4 linked regions of the Homo sapiens genome follow. The protein of the gene in region 4 interacts with the protein of the main gene of each other region in a pairwise test. Each region holds a gene or a part of one and is shown on either strand. Other genes may lie near its edges.

Region 1 (5,066 bases), on a different chromosome or scaffold from region 4:
TTATTAAAATACCATGCCAAACAATGACCCACCATGTGTTCTTTGAGTGGAAACGTGTTGTAGAAAATCACACCTTGCTCTTGCAGACAGGCAATTTGAAAATCTAAAGGTTAAAGTACAAACTTCAGCAAGTGTAGTAAGACAGAAAGAGTCAGAGCTTTGAGGACACCTAAACCCAAGCTTAAAGCTTGGTTCTACCATTTACTAGCTGTATGACCTGAGTAACTGGCAGTTTATGCTTACGAGCTCCATTTCACTAGCTGTAAAATGCAGGTGAAGCATTGTGCCAATTAAGTAATATATGTAAAGTGCATACAAGGGTAACTGGCATGTAGCACTCGCTCTCAATAAGCAGTTGCTACAGTTAGTAAACCTCCCCAAGACGACCTGCCAAGAGACCTCAGAATAAAATATCACCACTTTACATGAAACCGCAAAAAATATTTTGACCAGGTATTAACTATTATATAAATCATGTGAGAATGCCTCAAAGTTACCATTTGTTTTCCATATTTTACAAGCTATTCCCTAAACAACATATGTCTCTGTTTACTGTATTTCCTATTAGACTATGAATAAAAACTATTTGGGCTTACAATAAAAATAACTGAGTTAGGCGTGGTGGCTCATGTCTGTAATCCCAACACTCTGGGAGGCCAAGGCAGGCAAATCATTCGAGCCCAGGAGTTCAAGACCAGTCTGGGCAACATGGTGAGACCCTGTCTCTACAAAAAAGAAATTAGCTGAGCATAGTGACATGTGCCTGTGGTCCCAGCTACCTGAGAGGCTAAGGCAGGAAGATCGTGTGAGGCCAAGAGGTCAAGGCTGCAGTAAGCCATGTTTGTGCCACTGCAGTCCAGCCTGGGCGACCTGATGTCTCAAAGATAATAATAACTGCACTTCTTACAGTAAAACAAAGTTTTTACCAGGAATTCAGACACATAGACCTTCACTGATCCACACTCAAACATGGCCAAACATGACACTACGCACAAACGTCTAATATTTCTCCCTTTCCCTATTAATGGACAAAATAAATAAGGGAAAATATTTTTCAAAATTTCTTTCAGCGAGTTGAGTTCCACAAAACAAAACAATACAGGGTAATTGCTTACCTGGAAAATATTTTGTACTTCAGATCCACCAATCCAGAATGAATGGGGGTTTTCCCTTTCAGACTAGTCTGAGAAAAGACAGCAGTCAAGCATCTTCCAAGATTCTTTCCGTTTACTGTATCCAGCTTTCTTCAACAAAATCCCAAACATGCACTTCGGTAACTGTTGAAAGACAGAAAGCAATCCATACACCCACCATGGCACCAGCGGCAAAGGACAGCCTCCAAGAAATGGAAGGAAGGGTCAATGGAATGGTGGATCTGAGGCACAGGAAAAAAGTTATAACCCCTGAGTCAGCTATTTGGCATAAAATGCCTGCAGCAGCATTCCTCACCTCTGTGTTGAAAGGATACAAAACTCGTAACAAATAATGGAACATCCCTAATGTTAATATTTACTCATGATAAACAGCATGCAACTTCCAAATGAGAGCAGCTAAAAAATACCTACCCTATCATCCATATAAATTGTCCTAGACCATTCAGCTACACTGAACTTCCTTATCCATTTTCTAAGACAGCTCCTCCACCATTAGAAAAATAGTTTGTCAGCCAAAAAGAATGATACGAGAGGGCTCAAATATCTACCATAAAGATATTTATTTACGTACCTAACAAAATGTTTTGGTTTGCTACATATAAGACATCATATCTACATATTACCCAAATCCTCTACCCTTAGCTAAAATATAGTGTGCTTCAAAACATATAACTGAAGACTGAACTTCTGACTCAGTAAAGGCCAGTCCCGTACAATGGCCAATGATCACGTAAACTGGGAAAAATCATAAAGAACGCTAATATACAATTTACTAGGTGACACCATTAAATATTAAGTCCTGTCCATATTATATCAATATTCTTTTTCTACCATATCAAATTAGACTGCAAATTCTAAACAAACTAAAAGGGAAAGAGAAAAAGCATTCAGCAGAACAACAAAGATAAAAACAAAAAGACTGAACTTACTCGAACATAAATTTGCTACTTCCACAATTGCTACATTATAGCCAAAATGCTCCTGCAGTAATTATAGTAATACCTACCTTATTGAAAAGCTACTAACTGGCCAAGCCCTTTACATTAATTACCCATATTTAATTCTCAAAAAAAGATGAGCAGAAAGAAGTAACCTATCCAAAGTCCCACATCTACTAGGTAGTAGAGCCCATGCCCTTTTCATGGAGCACTATGGACTCCACAGTTCAAGGGTCAGAAAGCCCATGATTTCTGAGAGAGGAGAAGAAATCAAGCTTTACTCTCAAAGGTCCTAAATTAATTAACATCAAAATGGAGAACAATGAAAATACAGAAGAGTAAATATTTCAGCCTACATGAATCAGTTGGGCCATCCTGAAAGGGTAATTCCCTAGATCTTGCCACTTAAAAAAGCATTTAATTAACAAAGAGCCATGCAATTCTACAGCCCATGATATTTTTTTCTTGTCTTTTTTTTTTTTTTTTTAAGTAGAGACAGGGTTTCACCATGTTGCCCAGGCTGGCCTCGAACTCCTAAGCTCAAGCGATCTGCCTACCTTGGCCTCCCAAAGGGCTGGGATTACAGGTGTGAGCCCCCATGCCCAGCCTAAAGCCCACAATATTAATGCTAAAACAAAACACATTATAGGCTGGGCTCGATGGCTCACACCTGTAGTCCCAACATTTTGGGAGGCCGAGGCGGGCAGATCACTTGAGGTCAGGAGTGTGAGGCCAGCCTGACCAACATGGTGAAACCCCATCTCTACTAAAAGTACAAAAATTAACCGGGCCTGGTGGCACATGCCTACAATCCCAGCTACTCGGGAGGCTGAGGAAGGAGAATCACTTGAACCCGGGAGACAGAGGCTGCAGTGAGCTGAGATCGTGCCACTGTACTCCAGCCTGGTTAACAGAGCAAGACTCCGTCTCAAAAAAAAAAAAAAAAAAAAGACTGTGGCAAGACATACTATAATGGTACTCAAGTAGTCTTTGTGTTTAGCAGCAAAGATTGTAACTGTGACAAAGAATCTCAAATCCAGCTGAACCCAAGTAATTTTTAAATTCTAAGATTTGTTGACAGTCCACAGGCAATGACTCTTAAAGATGTTCTGATTGTTCATATTGTAGGTAAGGCAATTAAAGTGACTGAAATACCGGTCTATGATTAACCTCGCCATAACAATCAGATGAAAATACCTTAAGACTCACAACTTTAAGGAGATCACAAAAGTAAAATCCCAAGCAAATAATGAGTTCTCAAGTTTTTCCCATTAAGTGGTATTACTCCTAAGCCTAAGAATAAACTGGAAACCCAATTTTGACAGAAGTAGCTAGGGAACTATGGCTAGTAGCGAACTGCTAAAACAGTATACTATGCTTTTCAAGGTACGACTATCCAAAATGCAAAACAAGTTATAGCAAAACACAACCACAGCAATTTGACTAACAGACTCATTTCTGGACCTCTTGAATCCTCAGGCTTTTCCCCTGTACTAGTGAGTTAATTTTTCTCCCTTCCCTTCAAAAAAAAAAAATATATATATATATACACACACATATATATTTCTTCAATCCCTAATTGTATATATATATTTCTTCAATCCCTAATTGCTGGCAGGCCTTATGCTAGTAATACAAAGATTAACAGATGCCAGGTGAGTAGTGTCAGGACTGAGTTCTTCCTGCCCCTCTGCCCCCTTTCTCTTTGAATCTATCATGTAGTCATTTCAGAGGGCCAAAATATATTTTATTGTTAGTTACCAAAACTGGTTCAATGTTCTCCAGTTAACTCCTAAAAAAATAAACATTAAAAATTACTCAAGTTCCTTTTTCACAATAGTAGAACCTCAGTCTTTCTTTTTCTTCTGTGGATCAGAGGCTTTTTACTATACAATGGTTTCCTACATTCAATATGCTTATATTTACACACCTCTCTATCACAAGCCAAAGAGCCAAAGCTTTTTTTTTTATTTTTCCTATTAATGTCCCAGTGTTTATACTTCACAGCTTTCCATTTTGTGAAGCTCTTCATTGTTAACTCAACCTGAGAGGGAATTTCCTAAAAACGCTTCCCGCTGACATCACAGAACTCTTCCATCTTTTAGTTTCATTAAAACACTAAGAACCAGGTAAGAGATACCCTACTGGATTGTCAGGTCTTCCTGGTCTGTCTCTCATTTGCCTACAAAGACAAACTTCCTCTTAAGCAATTGCGATCAGCAGAAACTAACCAAGGGTAACGAGCACATTCTTAACCAACACGTTTCTTCCCCCATTGTCATCTAATTCAATGAACAATACAACTCAGAAGAAAATCTTGTATGAATTCTCACTGCTTATTCTGTTAAGGTTAAAACCATCAGCTTTGATGATGGTAAGAATAAGAATTCAAAAACCACAATTTGGTCAGTCTAAACTAAACCGATCAAACATAAATCCCAATGCTCAATGTCAATATAAACTAATCACCAGTCTCTTTCTGTCAGGATACCAGGCATAAAAATAGGACTGGGTGGGTTCTCTCTGTAGTTACAGCATAGATCTAATTACGCCAAATTGGTAGTCATTGAAATAGTACCTCCCAGATTTTCCAAGACAGTATTGACTCTGCATGATTTCATTGTTTTTCCCAAAGATGGCTCATTAAATGTATGGCTAAAAGCAACTAAATGTTAGTCTTCTGTAAAGCCTCACAAATAAATACATGCGCAACTCAGGAGAAAGACCTTTTCCACACCATCGGTCTTGACTTCGCTTTAGGGTCCCTGTACTTGTGGGGAAAGTTAGTATGGTCAGCATTTGAAGAAAAGCAAGCCTCTGCAAAGTCCTTTCACACACATCTCTCATATAATCCTCCCAACAACTCAGACCAATACCTAAGTTTTCTTATTTATTTTTACATATAATCAAATCATACTGCAGAAAGGTTACCTTTCTTTATGTCACACAGCTAGCAAGCGACAGAGCTTGGATA
Region 2 (4,809 bases), on a different chromosome or scaffold from region 4:
TGAGGCTGCAGTGAGCCATGACTTCACCACTGCAGTCCAGCCTGGGTGACAGAGCAAGATCCTGTCTCAAAAACAAAACAAAACAAAAAAAAAAACAAAACTATACTTTTCACTGTAAAAGACAAAGACCAGCTCCTTATTATTTTCTCTCAGGGCCTCTAGTTGGTAACTTCCACTCGCTGTCTGGTGTCAGGTTGTCCATCCCAGAAGGTCCTAAAGTCCAGGGAGGCAGGGGAACTCTCTGCTGCATTCCCCCAGCACCTCATTCAACCAAGTGCGGGTGAACAAAATGGCTCTTCGCAGGCTGACCAATTGACCACTGACTCCTGGCTGCCACCCAGCCCCAAGGCCCAGGCTCTGCTTAGCACCTGCCATTCCAGGGCCTACTGGCATTTCCTGGCTTTGGTAACACACCTGATACCTGATGCCTGTAAAGGGGACCCACCTTTACTTGGGCCTCACACAGCAGGAAACCCTCCACCAGGCCGTGAGCCTGTGGGTCACTGGGTCTTGACGGCCAGCACTGGAAGGCGCCTTGACCTATGTCCAGGATTTCAAAACGCCCGAGGGGAACCTCCCAGGGCCCTCCATCCGCTTCCCAGGCAGACCTATCAGCCAGACAGCTTCCGTCTTGCCTCTGGGTTGAGACTGTGGCAATAATGGCTCTTCGGTTGACGAAAGGAAGTAAACTGTGTTGGGTAAATGCAGATGGACAGATTCTTTTCCAAGCTGGTGAGACCAAGGCAGGCGAGGCTGAGCGCTGCCCTTTTATCAAGGCTTGACTGAAGGACCTCATCCAGAGTCACTATCAGAGCTCGCTCCAGCACTCTCCTTCATGGAGCCCCAGGGTCAGCAGTGGAGAGGGTCAGAGCACCCCCACAACCCCCACAGCGAGATGACCTCGGCTCGTCTTGCCTCTGCCACCAGAGCTGTGACTGTGGGCAAGATATTTTACAGCAGGACCAGTTTCTTGTCCGAAGGCAGGGCTATTAACAGGACCTAACTCAGGATACTTGTGTGGATAAAATCATGTGTGAAGAGCTTTTAGGGCCTTGCTTCTCAAAGAGGGGCCCCAGGCCATCAGCACACCTGGAGTGTGCAGGGGGAAGCTCTCAGCCCCACCCCAGCCCTCTTTACAAGACCCCCGCGTGGCACCTGTGGCGTGGCACCTGTGTGCACTCGTGTTTTCAAAGCCCCCGGACATCCCAACCACAGCCCAAGTGTTCTGAAAGTGGCCCCAGCCACACCTGCCTTCAGGGCGAGGGCTTGTTCCTCACTGACTCCTGCTGCTCCCAGCAAGACCCACTTCCGGGTCTGCAGGGAGAGGCCCTAAGGGCACAGAGGTGGACAAAGGGCTGCCTGCATCACTTTATCTTTTCTACTTTATTACTTCAAATTAACAACCACGATAAAGCTCAAAAAAGTCCAATATTTACACAGGAAAAAAGTACAAAATTCCCCCCAAAGTTCTTCAGTTTTTTTTTTTTCAGTTTTTTAAATTACAAAGTAATAAAAAGCTTTGCTCTTTAATTAAAAAAAAAAAGGAAAAAGGGGAAACAGAGGTAAATAAATTAGGAAAACACACACACGGAGAAAACAAACAAAAATAAAATAAAATAAAAACAAAAAGGTGTTAACTAGGAAGGATGGGTTAATCCAAAACCCAGCCCTGACTCCAGGCTCCTCCTCAGAAAGGTGGAACCAGGGAGAGGGGGGACCCCAGGTGACTGTCAGGACCAGGGAAGTAATTTATAACTCAGAGCCAGATGCCTTCTGGAAGCAGTCTCCATGGATTCTGCCCTAAAACCAGGAATGGAAGATGGAGCTGCCACCGGCTGATGACGGGCTAGGGGGGGACCGGTGGCAGCGAGGACCCTCTGAGCTCTGAGGGATGCGGAGGTCACCGCCCACCCCCATGTCCTTGTTAGTAGACACAGGAGAACGGGAATTCGGGCTGGCAGGCGGGGCGGGCCGTGGCACCTGCTGTCTTGGGAAACACAGGTCAATACATCCACACACACACACACACACACACACGCAGGGGACGCCGGCCCCCACCACCTCCCCACCCACTCCATGGAGAGGCAGAGGAGGAGCCTGGAGGCCAGGGGGACAATGGAAAAGCCCAGCACGGGAAGTCAGCCACTGTCATCTCAGAGTGGGTGGGGCTGTGCGTATCTCCTGGATTCTGAGGCTCGGAAAACTCGGTGGGAACTGCCTTCAACTGACTACACCACTCCCTGATGATGCTTGAGGGCCGGCTTTGGCTCTGGGACCTGTCACTTCTCCGACACGGACCCGACCCGTTCCTCTCCAGGCAGGTGGTGGGTGGGGGCAGGAACAGGAGGCCGGGCAGGCCCTGGCGTCTGGCTCCTGTAGCCTGGTGTTGTCAGGGGAGCATCTGGCAGCCTGAAGGTTGGGGGCAGCGGGCACCACAAGGGGGCAAGAATCCTCAGTGCTGAGGGCATCTCATCTTCTTGCCATTGGCAAAGAAATCAAAGAAACAAACTCCATCGTCGGTTTTGTGCTGGGTTTTTTTGTTGTTCTTTTGAGTGGTTTATTTTTGCCTTTTTTTTTTTTTTTTTTTTTTTAAAGAAAATACAGTGAAGACACTAGAAGGGAGAAGGGAAAAGACAGGTGAGGTACACAGCTGTCTCTGGCTACTTTTTTTTTTTTTTGAGATGGAGTCTCGCTCTGTCCCCCAGGCTGGAGTGCAGTGGCACGATCTCGGCTCACTGCAACCTCCACCTCCCAGATTCAAGCAATTCTCCTGTCTCAGCGTCCCGAGTAGCTGAGATTACAGGTGTGTGCCACCACACCCGGCTAATTTTTGTGTTTTTAGTAGAGATGGGTTTTCACCATGTTGGCCAGGCTGGTCTCGAACTCCTGACCTCAAGTGACCCACCTGTCTGGGCCTCCCGAAGTGCTGGGATTACAGGTGCGAGCCACTGCACTTGGCCCCCCAAACTCCTGTCTTCTCGTCCCTTGGTCTATCTCCCTCTGGGCCCCAGAGCCTGGCTCAAGGCCCAGCACGCTAGGAGATCCATCTTCATGTGACAGAAACGGATTCTCTCCCTTCTCTGCCCTCCTGGTGAGCATCTCCCCACCCCACCCCCAAATATCTGCCCAGCCCGCCATGGACAGCTTGGTTCCTGGGCCTGAGATCCGAGGAAGGCCAGCCCTGTTCATGCCTCCACTCTCTTGTGTGGATGAATTTCTACAAAACAGACCACACACAGATTGTCCCAGTGTAAAGTTGAGTCCCCCGACGTGTCGGACTACTGCCTACAAATGGACACACGTTCCCCAGAGAGCTCAGATTATACCCTCGAGAAGCCCAAAGAACCCCTGCCGCCTCCCCTTCCCCAAGCCAGGCCCCAGAGTGGGGCGTTTCCATACCCCGCCTCAAGGCCTGGTACAGTCCGGGAAGAACCAGCAGGCTCACGCTGGCCAGAGGGCCTCTCTCAGTCCTACTACAGAGGCATAAAAAGGGCTCCTTTGCTTCCTCCACAGCCCTGTTGTGAGTCTTGTGCAGGAATTAACTTGCGTAACAGCCCAGAGGCTGAGACAGGGCTAATGCCGTGGGAGAGGTCAGAGTGTGAGCCCATGGCCCCGTCTCTGCTGGGAACCAACCTTCCAAAATATGTTAAGGCAGAAGGAGATAGAGACCTGGCCGAGGGCAGAAAAAGTTTTTCCAGCAGAAACTAATCCATGAGGGGTCAGGCCTGAGCATAGAAACCCTTGGCCCCAAGTCAGGCAGCCTCCGAGGTTTTAAACTACTTGAGGCCCCTTAGAGTTCTGGGGCGCCTGGTACCATCTGCCACTGCCACTGCCACCCACCCCTCCACAACACATTGGTCTCTTTCTGGGGCCCTGGGAGCTTCTAGGTCGGCTGGGCTGGCTGCATCTGCAGCAGTCATGGACTCACCTAAGCAAACACTGGTCCAATGGGGGCTCTCCTCACTTCCCGAGATGGTCAAATGGCACACTTGTCTTTTGAGGGTGGGGAGGGAGAGAGGGGGAGGGAGAGAGAGGGAGGTACAAGCTTCAAGTCAAGTCCCTTAGCCGCTGGCGATAGAGATTTGGCAAGTCTCTCCCCACTGAGGAGGTGTACCCCCACCCCCACCTCCAGGCAGCCCCTCAAGCTGAGGGAAGGCCTGTGTGATTCCAGTGACTCTAAGATGTCCCTGTCTGTAGCTAAGAATGTTGCCCAGGGAGGCAAACCTGCTACCTAAGTAGATGGCCAATGAGGGTTCTCTCGCAGGACTCCCTCCTCGCCCACAGGCAGGAGGACGAGGGCAGGGCTCCCACCCACCTCTGCCAGGCCACCTGCCCTGGGCAACTACAGATTCCCCCTTCCCAAGTGTCCCCATCCAAACATAGCCCCAAAGAGGATGGGACCTCACTGCCCCTACACCCCATGCTCTTGCCAATGCTCACAGGGGCTCCTGGGGGCTCCCTGATGTCAGGGAGCAGCAACACCTCATCTCTGAGCCCCTGCTGCCCACCCTGGCTGGGCCCCTGGCAGCGAGGACTGGAGCCCAGCTGTGCCACTTGCCAGGGAATGTTACTGCCCTGAGCCTTGGTGAATGACTTTGCTCAAGAGGGCTCATCAGACCTCAGAGGATTAAATGAGGCCAAGTCCTGGCTCTACAGAAGGGGTTCACTCCAAGGCAAGCAGCGTCGATGGAAAGGGAAGAACAGAGCCACGGCCTGACCTCCCACTGGGGGGTCTCTAACTCAGTTCTGAGGCCCAGAGGGACTGGCAGGGGGGCAGCTCACCTGTGAGGCTGGGATCCGGGAGACCTC
Region 3 (5,066 bases), on a different chromosome or scaffold from region 4:
ACTCTGAGAACCACTGCTTTAATCACAACCCTTGGCAGAAGCCTGATGAGTAAGGTACATCGGGAGGTTGTCATAAAACAGGCTAGGGAGCCAGGCACTCAGCTTCCCCCTCACCAAAACCACTGGCTCCTTAATCCGACAATCAAAACCACCCCTGAGCCTGCCCCCTCTCCAGCTCCATTTTCCTGCCACTCTCCCTCCCACTGACTAGAACAGAAGTACCGTGAGAGCAGGATTTTGAGTTTCAGTTACTGCTGCATCCCCCAGGGCCTAGACAGACCAGGTCCTGACATGGCTGCTTCCTAGGCCCCCTTCCTTTTATTCCAGTTCCCCTCGGCCAAAGATGCCACTTCCTTGCCCTGTGCTTGGTCTCCTCCAGGAAGCCTTCCTTGATCCTTCTCACCCACAAACCAGGCTGGGTGCTTCCTCCATTTCCAGAATTCCCTGTGCTCCTTCTGGTATGGCAGCAGCTAGTTCATTTAATAGTTTTCTGTGATGACGCCTTTCTACCCTACCAAACTGAGAGCTCTTCAAGGCCAAGGCCTGGGTCGCAGTCAGTGGTGCCTCTGGAATTCCTCAGCCCTGGGACCCGTATGCAGGCAGCCACAGGACAGATTCGCCAAACCAGAGAGCTCCCCTCCTGGGAAGTGAGGTCCAACAGCCACAACCACTGGTAGAGCCCACGTCGGCTCACCCGTGCTTGGTACGTAAAGCCAGCAGGAGCAGCAGCTGGGCCCCAAGTGACCTTCAGCAAACAAACCCACCCACCTCCTTCCAATGCAGTAGGCTGCTCCAGCCTGTTCGCCACATCATCCCTGGGCTGCAATCATTCATTCATTCATTCAAACACCTCCTGAAGGTCTGTAACACCCAGGGCACGATGCCAGGCACTGGGGAATGAGCCTGCACAGATGATGGACGGAGATGCATTCCTGGCTCTGTGGATGCTAACCTTCCTCCAGCCCTAACTCCTTCCCACCTACCCCCAGCCAAGGCTCTAAAGGCCCGAACTCTGGCCTCAGCAGCTGTCTCTGTGCAGTCCTGGTCCCCACCACCCCCTTATCCTGAGCTAACTCCAACATCTCTGGTGCCACTGGACTCCCTGTATGGACCTGAGCAACTACCTGGCAGCTTCTGCAACCCCAGGTGTCAGGCTGCCTTCCTGATTCAGTCAGGCCTTGCCTGCCTTGGCCCTCCCCTGTGTTAGGCGAGCTCCATCTCGGGGGGTTATGGGAACAACAGCAGGGGACATGGGGCCTCCAAAAACCAACATAAACTTGGCGGATGAGGGATCCCATAAAAGGCAGGAGGCTCCAGAGCCCCTGGCTTTGTGGGCCTGGGTCCCAGCAGCCCACCTGCTGGCCTACCTTGACATAGAGGATAGGGATGGTCAACTTGGCCTTGGTGAAGTGGCGGGCCACCCGGTACACTGTCTCGGGCACATATTCCAGCACCAGATTTAGGTAAAGCTCGTCTTTCTGCAGGGAGCAAAGGAGAGGTGTGAGGCACTGTGAGAAGAGTGAGGAGGGGGAAGGAAGGTATGCAGGGAGCAGTGGGGGAAAGGCAGGCAGGCAGGAAAATGGCTGGAGCAACCCACCACCACCACCTCGAGATCTCACCTTCTCGCCACTGGAGTAGAAAAAGTATCTCAGCCTCACAATATTGCAGTGGTCCAGCTTACGCATGATCTGCAGCTCTCGGTTCTTGAGGGCAAAGGGAGAGTCTCAGAATACAACCAACTCTCTCGGCTGCTCCTCCCTACTCACACTCACTCCCAACAACAGCCAGGCAGCTACTCCCTGTGTCCCAGCTCCAAGGTCCCCTGGAGTATCCCCCAATTCCTTGTCTCCAGACTATTCCCCTCCCACAGGAGCTGGAAGCCCACAGGTTAAACCCAGGCCACAGATGTGTTTTCTTCACCCCATTTTTTTTTTTTTTTGAGACAGAGTCTTGCTCTGTTGCCAGGCTGGCATGCAGTGGCTCAATATCGGCTCACTGCAACCTCTGCCTCCCTGGGTCAAGCAATTCTCCTGCCTCAGCCTTCCAAGTAGCTGGGATTACAGGCATGCACCACCACGCCCAGCTAATTTTTGTATTTTTAGTAGAGATGGGGTTTCACCACGTTAGCCAGGATGGTCTCGATCTCCTGACCTTGTGATCCACCTGCCTCAGCCTCCCTGACCTCATGATCCACAGGCCTCAGCCTCCCAAAGTGCTGGGATTACAGGCGTGAGGCACCGCGCCCAGCCACCCCACTTAAAAAAAAATTTTTTTTCAACTTATTGCTGACATGTAAAAGCCAAATGGCACCTTCTGATTTTTTTCTCCAAAATAAAGTTTTAAAAAGGATAGGCCAGGGCCAGGCGTGGTGGCTCACGCCTGTAATCCCAGCACTTTGGGAGGCTGAGGTGGGTGGATCACGAAGTCAGGAGATTGAGACCATCCTGGTTAACACGGTGAAACCCTGTCTCTACTAAAAATACAAAAAAAATTAGCCAAGCATGGTGGCAGGCACCTGTAGTCCCAGCTACTCGGGAGGCTGAGGCAGGAGAATGGCGTGAACCCAGGAGGCGGAGCTTGCAGTGAGCTGAGATCGCGCCACTGCACTCCAGCCTGGGCGACAGACTCTGTCTCAAAAAATAATAATAATAAATAAATAAATAAGATAAAATTTATTATTATTATTATTTTTAAAAGAACCTGGCTATGTTGGCCAGGTTGGTTTTGAACTCCTAGTCTCAGGCAATCCTCCTGCCTCGGGCTCTCCAAGTTCAAGGATTACAGGCATGAGCTACCATACCCAGCCTTAAAATAAAAATAAAATAAAAAACAGCTGGGCATGGTGGCTCACCCCTGTAATCCCAGCACTTTGGGAGGCCAAGGCAGGGAAATCACTTGAGGCCAGGAGTTCGAGACCAGCCTGGCCAACGTGGCAAAACCCCATCTCTACTAAAAATACAAAAAAATTAGCTGGGCATGGTGGCGCACGCCTGTGATTCCAACTACTCAGGTGGATGAGGTACAAGAATTGCTTGAACCCAGGAGGCAGAGGTTGCAGCGCTTGAACCCAGGAGGCAGAGGTTGCAGTGAGCCGACATCACACCACTGCACTCCAGCCTTAGTGACAGAACGAGATTCTGTCTTAAAAAAAAAAAAAAAAAAATAGAGACCATCCTGGCTAACTCGGTGAAACCCCGTCCCTACTAGAAATACAAAAAATTAGCCGAGAGTGGTGGCACACGCCTGTAGTCCCAGCTACTAGGGAGGCTGAGGCAGAAGAATCGCTTGAACCCGGCAGGCGGAGGTTGCAGTGACCCGAGATCACGCCACCACACTCCAGCCTGGGTGACAGCATGAGACTCCGTCTCAAAAAAAAAAAAAAAAAAAAAAAAAAGATTTCACATCTAAATCCAGTTTTCAGTTTGTCTTGAAAAATCAGGGCTAGGTATGCTGGCTCATGCCTGTAATACCAGCACTTTGGGAGGTCGAGGTGGGGGCGGATTACTTGAGGTCAGGAGTTCGAGACCAGCCTGGCCAACATGGCAAAACCCTGTCTCTACTAAAAATACAAAAAAAAAAAATTAGCCAGGCATAGTGGCCCATGCCTGCAATCCCAGCTACTCAGGTGGTTGAGGCACAAGAATCGCTTGAACCTGGGAGGCAGAGGTTGTAGCGGGCCAAGATCGTGCCACTGCACTCCAGCCTGGGTGACAGAGTAAGACTCCATCTCAAAAAAAAAAAATCAGGCATGGGCACATGAGGCTTGCCCCCCTACCTGGCACAAGCAACAACAGACAGGTAGTGGCCATCCAGCTCACTCTGGTCCCGTGGAAGCATCTGGGTCCTCGAACTCTATCTAGGATCCTGAGTCCCAGACTCCAGGCATTGGACTTTTCCCAGAATGCGGTCTCAGCATTCTTCCCCATTCTCTATTCCTCAGTGAGGCCTAGGAACTCCCTGCCCCTACATCCCTCTTACTTCTGGAACTCAACTCCAATCAAATTCTGACACCCTGGAGCTCCTCCTGCCCAAGGGCCCTCCCTGCCAAGACCGAGGCCCTGGTCTGGTTCCTTTCCAGTCTAGGCTCAGTTCTCCTACATCCAGACTAGTCTAAGCTCCAAATGCCAGGCCCTTAAACACCAATTATTCCTCAACTTCCACTTCCTCCATCTCCTTCTAGTTCCCTGAGCCTCTCCTAGCTCACAGGGCACCTCCATTCCATTCTGCGCTGGCCAAACACCTGGGAAGAGCGCGACCTTCAGAACCACCCGCGCTAGCCCTGCCAGGTCCCTTTCTCTCCTGGGAAGAAGTGTAACCAAATGGTTAAGGTAGAGGGTTTGGGAATCAGATTCCAGCCTTGACTGGGGCACTTGCTCTATGACCTCAGGCAATCCTCTTACCTGAGTTTGTTTCCCTGCTTTTAAACTTAGCTTACACTTAGAATGGGTATAACCACAGTACCTACCCTCAGAGAATCTTTATGTAAATTAAACAAGAATTTGCTTATTAAGCACTTACATTGAGCAAATGCCCAGTAAAAGCTCTGGGCTCTCCTGGGATCCACATTTCCCATCTTTCACAGGTCTCATTTCCTCTTTTCCCCCTTCTCTTCTGGCCCATGGCTCTGAAACCCAAGCCTCCAGCTCTCTGGCTCAGGTTCTCCCACCAGTCACACCCAGTCCCCAAACCTCCCTGTCCCCATCCCGCCCAAGCTACCTTGAACCTCTTGTCCTGGAGAACCTTCTTGATGGCGACTAGTTCCCTGGTCTCTGCCAGCCGTGCCTGGTACACGACCCCAAATGAGCCATTGCCAATCACTTTGATGTCCGTGTAAGCCACTTCTTGGGAGCGCTCTGGGCCTTGGCCTAGAGTGGCTACGACTGTGGTCACCTTCCCGCTGTCACCTGGGGAACAAAGGGGATACACGATCCACTGACCCATCCTGCCTGCGCATCACCCTATCCTGGGGCTGTGGGAGGAAGGGAAATCTCTGCAGGAAGCTCGTTGGGGACCTCTTTGTCCCCTCCTCCTCTTTGAGGAAAGGTGGATGCTGGGACCTTCCCAGT
Region 4 (5,066 bases):
CCGGAGCCAAGGAGGAGCATCCAGTGCTTCTGGAAGATGATGAGGAAGGCTGGGGCTGGCACCAGCAGGGATGTGGGCCGGTGTGTCCGGGTGTGTGGACGGCAGGGCGTCCACACAGATGGCAAGGAACTAACAAGCCACCCTTTCCCGCTGCACCCGGGGCCTGGAGGCTGGGTGGCTGGGGGGCCATGCTGGCTTTTCCGTGCCCAGTGCTGGGCAAGGCGCAGACGTGGGAGTGGCACACACAGGAATGGGAGCTGCCAGCACTGCAGGGACCACGGCTGCTGTGTCTGCAGACAGCCAGAGGCGCAGACAGACGCGCTTATGGTCTGAACAGTCAGCACCACAGAGACCAAGGGCAGGATGAAAAGCCCATCATCAGGCCCAGAGAGCAGCACGGCTGAGGGGCCAACAGGAGCACTCATGCCGCCACGCGAGCTCCATAAAAAGACTCCAGGTGGCCTTGCAGGCTGCGTCACCACGGTTCTGAGAACAGCAAAACTGTCAGAGTCATCAGATTTACAGAGAATGGCAACCTCTCCAGCTTTAGAGGAACAGAAAAAAATATCATAAAGGAAAAAGCCAAGTAAATGAAAACGTGAAACTTCCAAGTAATTGTAAAGGCTAAAGATGAAGAGGCCCCTCCCCGCAGGGCACGCATTCTGGTACCAGATGCTGTAAAGCCACGGCCCCCAACCTTTTGGCACCAGGGACCAGTTTTGTAGAAGACAATTTTTCCATGGACAGTGGGGGCAGGGGGCTTTTCGGGATGAACCTGCTCCAACTCTGATGGGCAGGTGTTAAAGAGTCTCACAAGGTGCACACAGCCTGGGCCTCCGTGGGTGCAGCCACAACAGGGTTCTGCTCCTATGAGCGTCTAAGCTACTCCCCTCCTGCTGTCCCTGCTGCAGAGCCATGGACTCACCAGAGAAACGGCATAGCTTTTGCAAAACCAAGGCCCTCAACAGAGCAGAAGTGGGCAGTGCAACCACGGCACGTCCTGCTAGCTTATCGGCTTCCTGGGCCTCCCCCCGCCTCTGCTCACCACCATCCTCGGGTCCAGTTTCCCAGTAGCAGCAGTGAGCAGGCCCCGGGCAGCTGTGCCCGTGATGTGGGTTTCTCACTTGGGCCTCTGGCTGAGGGACCTCCCACCGAAGGTTCCAACCACAGCCCCACCTGACAGGCCACATGGACCTGATGCAGGTTCCTACAGAGCCTCCGATGAGGTTGTTTGCTGCAGACTGTTCACACAGAAACGCACACTGCGGCCCCCACCCCACCACACAAGGGCCCTCTGGGGGTGCGGAACGCAGCAGGGCCTGCTCCTGTCTGTGCCTGCCGCCTCTGTTGGCTTTCATCTTCCTGGCGACTCAAATGTGACCCTCCAGGACCTGAGGGCTCTGTGCTTCCCTCGGTTCTGGAAGGTTCTGACGACGACACCAGGGACTCGCCATAGGCATCCTCTTTTCTCTGTGTTGCATCCTGAGAGGTCTTTCCAGGTCCACGTTCCAGGCACCAACGCACTCCACAGCTTCTGTCCTTCCTGACCCTTCTGAGGGGAGGTTGTCTGCCTGATGCCCCCTCATCCAGAGTCTGTGGCATGCACTTTCTACACACGAAGACTCTGACCAGCACCCCAAAATCGGGGCACCCCTGTGGACAGAAGCCTCCCGCGGGCCTCAGCCCACTCAAGCCCCGTCCTCATGGGCACAGAGGGCTGTTCCGGGCCTGTGGTTGCTCAGCTGTCTTGTCTCTCGGGCCTCCGTCATCCCAGCGGCTCCGCGGGTTCTTGACGTTCAGGACCTGTGACTTGAAAATCAGAGGCCGGTGGCTGTGCAGGTGCCCTCGACTTGGGCTGTGACCTCATGATAGCCTTGGGCCATGCCTGGCAGGCAGGGCCCCAGATCTTCCACAGCACAAGCACGCACACACGCACGCACCCACACACAGCCTACAGTGTCAGCCACTTTTTGTTAAGTAGACACCATCAGTGCCTAGTTTTAGCCAAACCTGAGTCAAGGGTTGGCTGGCATCTTCTCAGAAGTGATAACAAACCAACATCCTTTCTTTTCAACCATAAAGAAATTCCTGACTTGGAAACTGATGTCTGCAGAAAAGCTAAAAGGCTAAGAAATCCTGACCAAGACTGTGTCAGTGCTCTCAAAATGCCTACTTCCCTGCACAGACACTCAGATGGTCACGTGGTTTAACCTCAGACACCGCGGCTAACAGTGCGTTGCGCAGTGGCTCACACCTGTAATCCCAGCACTTTGGGAGGCTGAAACGGGCGGATCACGAGGTCAGGAGATCGAGACCATCCTGGCTAATACGGTGAAACCCCATCTCTACTAAAAATACAAAAAATTAGCCGGGCGTGGTGGCAGGCGCCTGTACTCCCAGCTACTCGGGAGGCTGAGGCAGGAGAATGACGTGAACCCGGGAGGCAGAGCTTGCAGTGACAGCAAAACTCCTATCTCAAAAAAAAAAAAAGAAAACACTTTTCTCATCTTCCCGTAACATCTTTCCTGTTCAAAGTCAACCCATCAAAATAAGGAAAGATCATTAATCTGTTCATCAGCGCAGGAATGCTCTGTAGACGGAGTCAGGCTGTGCTGGGCTCCAGCTAGCACTCAGCTCCATGACCTACTGCCCAGCCAAGCCCCCATGCCCGAGACTGGGCAAAGGTGCCATTATTCTATGCAACAGCGAAAGCCAAGGCAGCTTTAAAGTCAAGACGTTTACCTGGAGACGACCACTGTTCAGCCACAAAAACACCAAGTTTTCCCCAAGGGCTGTGCAGGGGCCAGGCCTGGGCTCTGAGTCTTGAGAAAGGCTCAGAGCTCCCCCTCTTGAGGGGAAGCATCCACCTTCACAAGGCAAGACACTTCCTGCCACCAGGGAGGGTGTGGCCTTGGGGCATGGGGGCTCTTCTGAATGAACAGCTCCCTCTGGGCCCTAAATGCTGCCTGAGACTTGATGTCCCCTGCTGCCCTCAGGGACTGGCCACTTGCAGATGTTGCTGGGATCACACGCTTACGCCTAGAGGTAAGCCTGGCTCGTGGGAGGCCAGGCAAGTGCCTTTCCCGCGGACCAGTTCACCAGGCCCACGCTGAGCGGGGAGGACGATGGGCTGAGGACCGCAAAGCCGGTACTTACGGGAATGTGAGGTAGGGGCACCCGCCCATTGACCTGCACGCTCTCCTGCATCTCCCTGCGGTGCTGCTTACGGATCCTGTATGGGGGGATCCCATCCCTGTCCAGGAGAAAGAGGCAGCCGTTAACTCAGAGAGGAGCAGGAGGGCCAGCACCGTGCCAATAGAGCTCCTGGCCCCGACCGCCGGTCAGCAGGCAATGATGAGGACACCTGTGAGCCACCACCACTGAGACACGTGCACACAGGTGATGCAGGCACCCATGTGTGCACAGGGGAACATGTACACACAAAGGTTCACACGTGATGGTAAAGCCCAGGTGCCCAGCCACGCGTCTTCCTAGCTGGTATTTACTGGGCACCTCCACAAAGCCTCCTTGTGCCTGCCTGTTCTTTAGGGCCTGACAGCTAAGAGTGGTTTCTACATTTTTTTTTCTTCTTTTTTTTGAGATGGAGTCTCGCTCTGTCGCCCAGGCTGGAGTGCAGTGGCACAATCTCGGCTCACTGCAAGCTCCACCTCCCGGGTTCACGCTATTCTCCTGCCTCAGCCTCCTGAGTAGCTGGGACTACAGGTGCCCGCCACCACGCCCAGCTAATTTTTTTGTATTTTTAGTAGACACGGGGTTTCACTGTGTTAGCCAGGAGAGTCTCGATCTCCTGACCTCGTGATCCGCCCGCCTCGGCCTCGCAAAGTGCTGGGAGTAATTACAGGCGCAAGCCACGGCGCCCGGCCAAGGTTTCTACATTTTTAAAGGGTGGGGGAAGAATCTGTGACAGGGACTGCATGCGGCTGCAAAGCCTCACATATTCACTGCCAGCCCTGCACGGGAAACGTTTGCTGGCCCCTGCTTGTGGCCTAGACCACTGTGCAGTGTGCCTGCCTTGGAGGGCATTGCTAAATGGACCAAAAACATTTCAGGATTGCACAGTGGGCAGCCAGGACAACCAGTGCCCCACGGAAAGATAGGAGATGCCAAGGCTGCACACTCTGCTTCTCTCCAGGAGCTGGCAGGGCAGTGTGGTCTCTGAGGGAGGCACAAGGTAGCTCTTTAGCAACAGGTTTTCTTTTATTTTTTTCTTTTTGAGACGGAGTCTTGCTCTGTCGCCCAGGCTGGAGTGTAGTGGCGCGATCTCGGATCACTGCAAGCCGCTCCCGGGTTCACGCCATTCTCCTGCCTCAGCCTCCCGAGTAGCTGGGACTACAGGTGCCCGCCACCACGCCCGGCTAATTTTTTGTATTATTTAGTAGAGACGGGGTTTCACTGTGTTAACCACGATGGTCTCAATCTCCTGACCCCGTGATCCGCCTGCCTCGGCCTCCCAAACTGCTGGGATTACAGGCATGCGCCACCGCGCCCAGCCCGCAACAGGTTTTCTTTATGAACCCTTTAGAAGATCATTAAAACACGAAAGTCAGATTATACATGGTCTGAATAATTACCCCAGGGTTAAGATAACTCACGCACAACCATCCTTCATGAAAGCCCTCGCCCTCTCCCAGCTATTAGAAAAGCTGCCTTCGGGCTGGGCGCAGTGGCTCATGCCTGTCATCCCAGCACTGTGGGAGGCCGAGGCGGGCGGATCACGAGGTCAGGAGATCGAGACCATCCTGGCTAACACGGTGAAACCCCGTCTCTACTAAAAATACAAAAAATTAGCCAGGTGTGGTGGCGAGTGCCTGTAGTCCCAGCTACTCGGGAGGCTGAGGCAGGAGAATGGCGTGAACCCGGGAGGCGGAGGTTGCAGTGAGGCGAGATTGTGCCACTGCACTCCAGTCTGGGCAACAGAGCAAGACTACGTCTCAAAAAAGAAAAGGAAGAAAGAAAGAAAAGCTGCCTTCGGAAGCACGGCAGCTCCAGGGATCCGTGCCGCACCCAGGGGCCTCTCAGAGCTGCCAGGAGACACAGGACGACTG

What was found.
Region 1: the proteins of AXIN1 (region 4) and FBXW11 interact in binary tests that used the Homo sapiens proteins (3 or more experiments, as listed by UniProt).
Region 2: the proteins of AXIN1 (region 4) and CSNK1E interact in binary tests that used the Homo sapiens proteins (3 or more experiments, as listed by UniProt).
Region 3: the proteins of AXIN1 (region 4) and GSK3A interact in binary tests that used the Homo sapiens proteins (3 or more experiments, as listed by UniProt).

Annotation. Positions count from the first base shown.
Region 1 is NC_000005.10:171,995,775-172,000,840, forward strand, and holds part of FBXW11 (F-box/WD repeat-containing protein 11), read right to left. Parts: intron 1,278-5,066; exon of another isoform or gene 1,116-1,277; intron 1-1,115.
Region 2 is NC_000022.11:38,289,327-38,294,135, forward strand, and holds the end of CSNK1E (casein kinase I), read right to left. Parts: coding exon 4,783-4,809; intron 3,994-4,782; coding exon 3,961-3,993; 3' UTR 3,929-3,960; intron 2,613-3,928; 3' UTR 1,365-2,612; downstream 1-1,364. Other genes in the region: TPTEP2-CSNK1E (casein kinase I), read right to left, coding at 3,961-3,993, 4,783-4,809.
Region 3 is NC_000019.10:42,235,239-42,240,304, forward strand, and holds part of GSK3A (glycogen synthase kinase-3 alpha), read right to left. Parts: intron 4,905-5,066; coding exon 4,717-4,904; intron 1,704-4,716; coding exon 1,620-1,703; intron 1,479-1,619; coding exon 1,368-1,478; intron 1-1,367. UniProt on the Homo sapiens protein: Constitutively active protein kinase that acts as a negative regulator in the hormonal control of glucose homeostasis, Wnt signaling and regulation of transcription factors and microtubules, by phosphorylating and inactivating glycogen synthase (GYS1 or GYS2), CTNNB1/beta-catenin, APC and AXIN1.
Region 4 is NC_000016.10:306,817-311,882, forward strand, and holds part of AXIN1 (axin-1), read right to left. Parts: intron 3,254-5,066; coding exon 3,157-3,253; intron 1,810-3,156; exon of another isoform or gene 1-1,809. UniProt on the Homo sapiens protein: Component of the beta-catenin destruction complex required for regulating CTNNB1 levels through phosphorylation and ubiquitination, and modulating Wnt-signaling.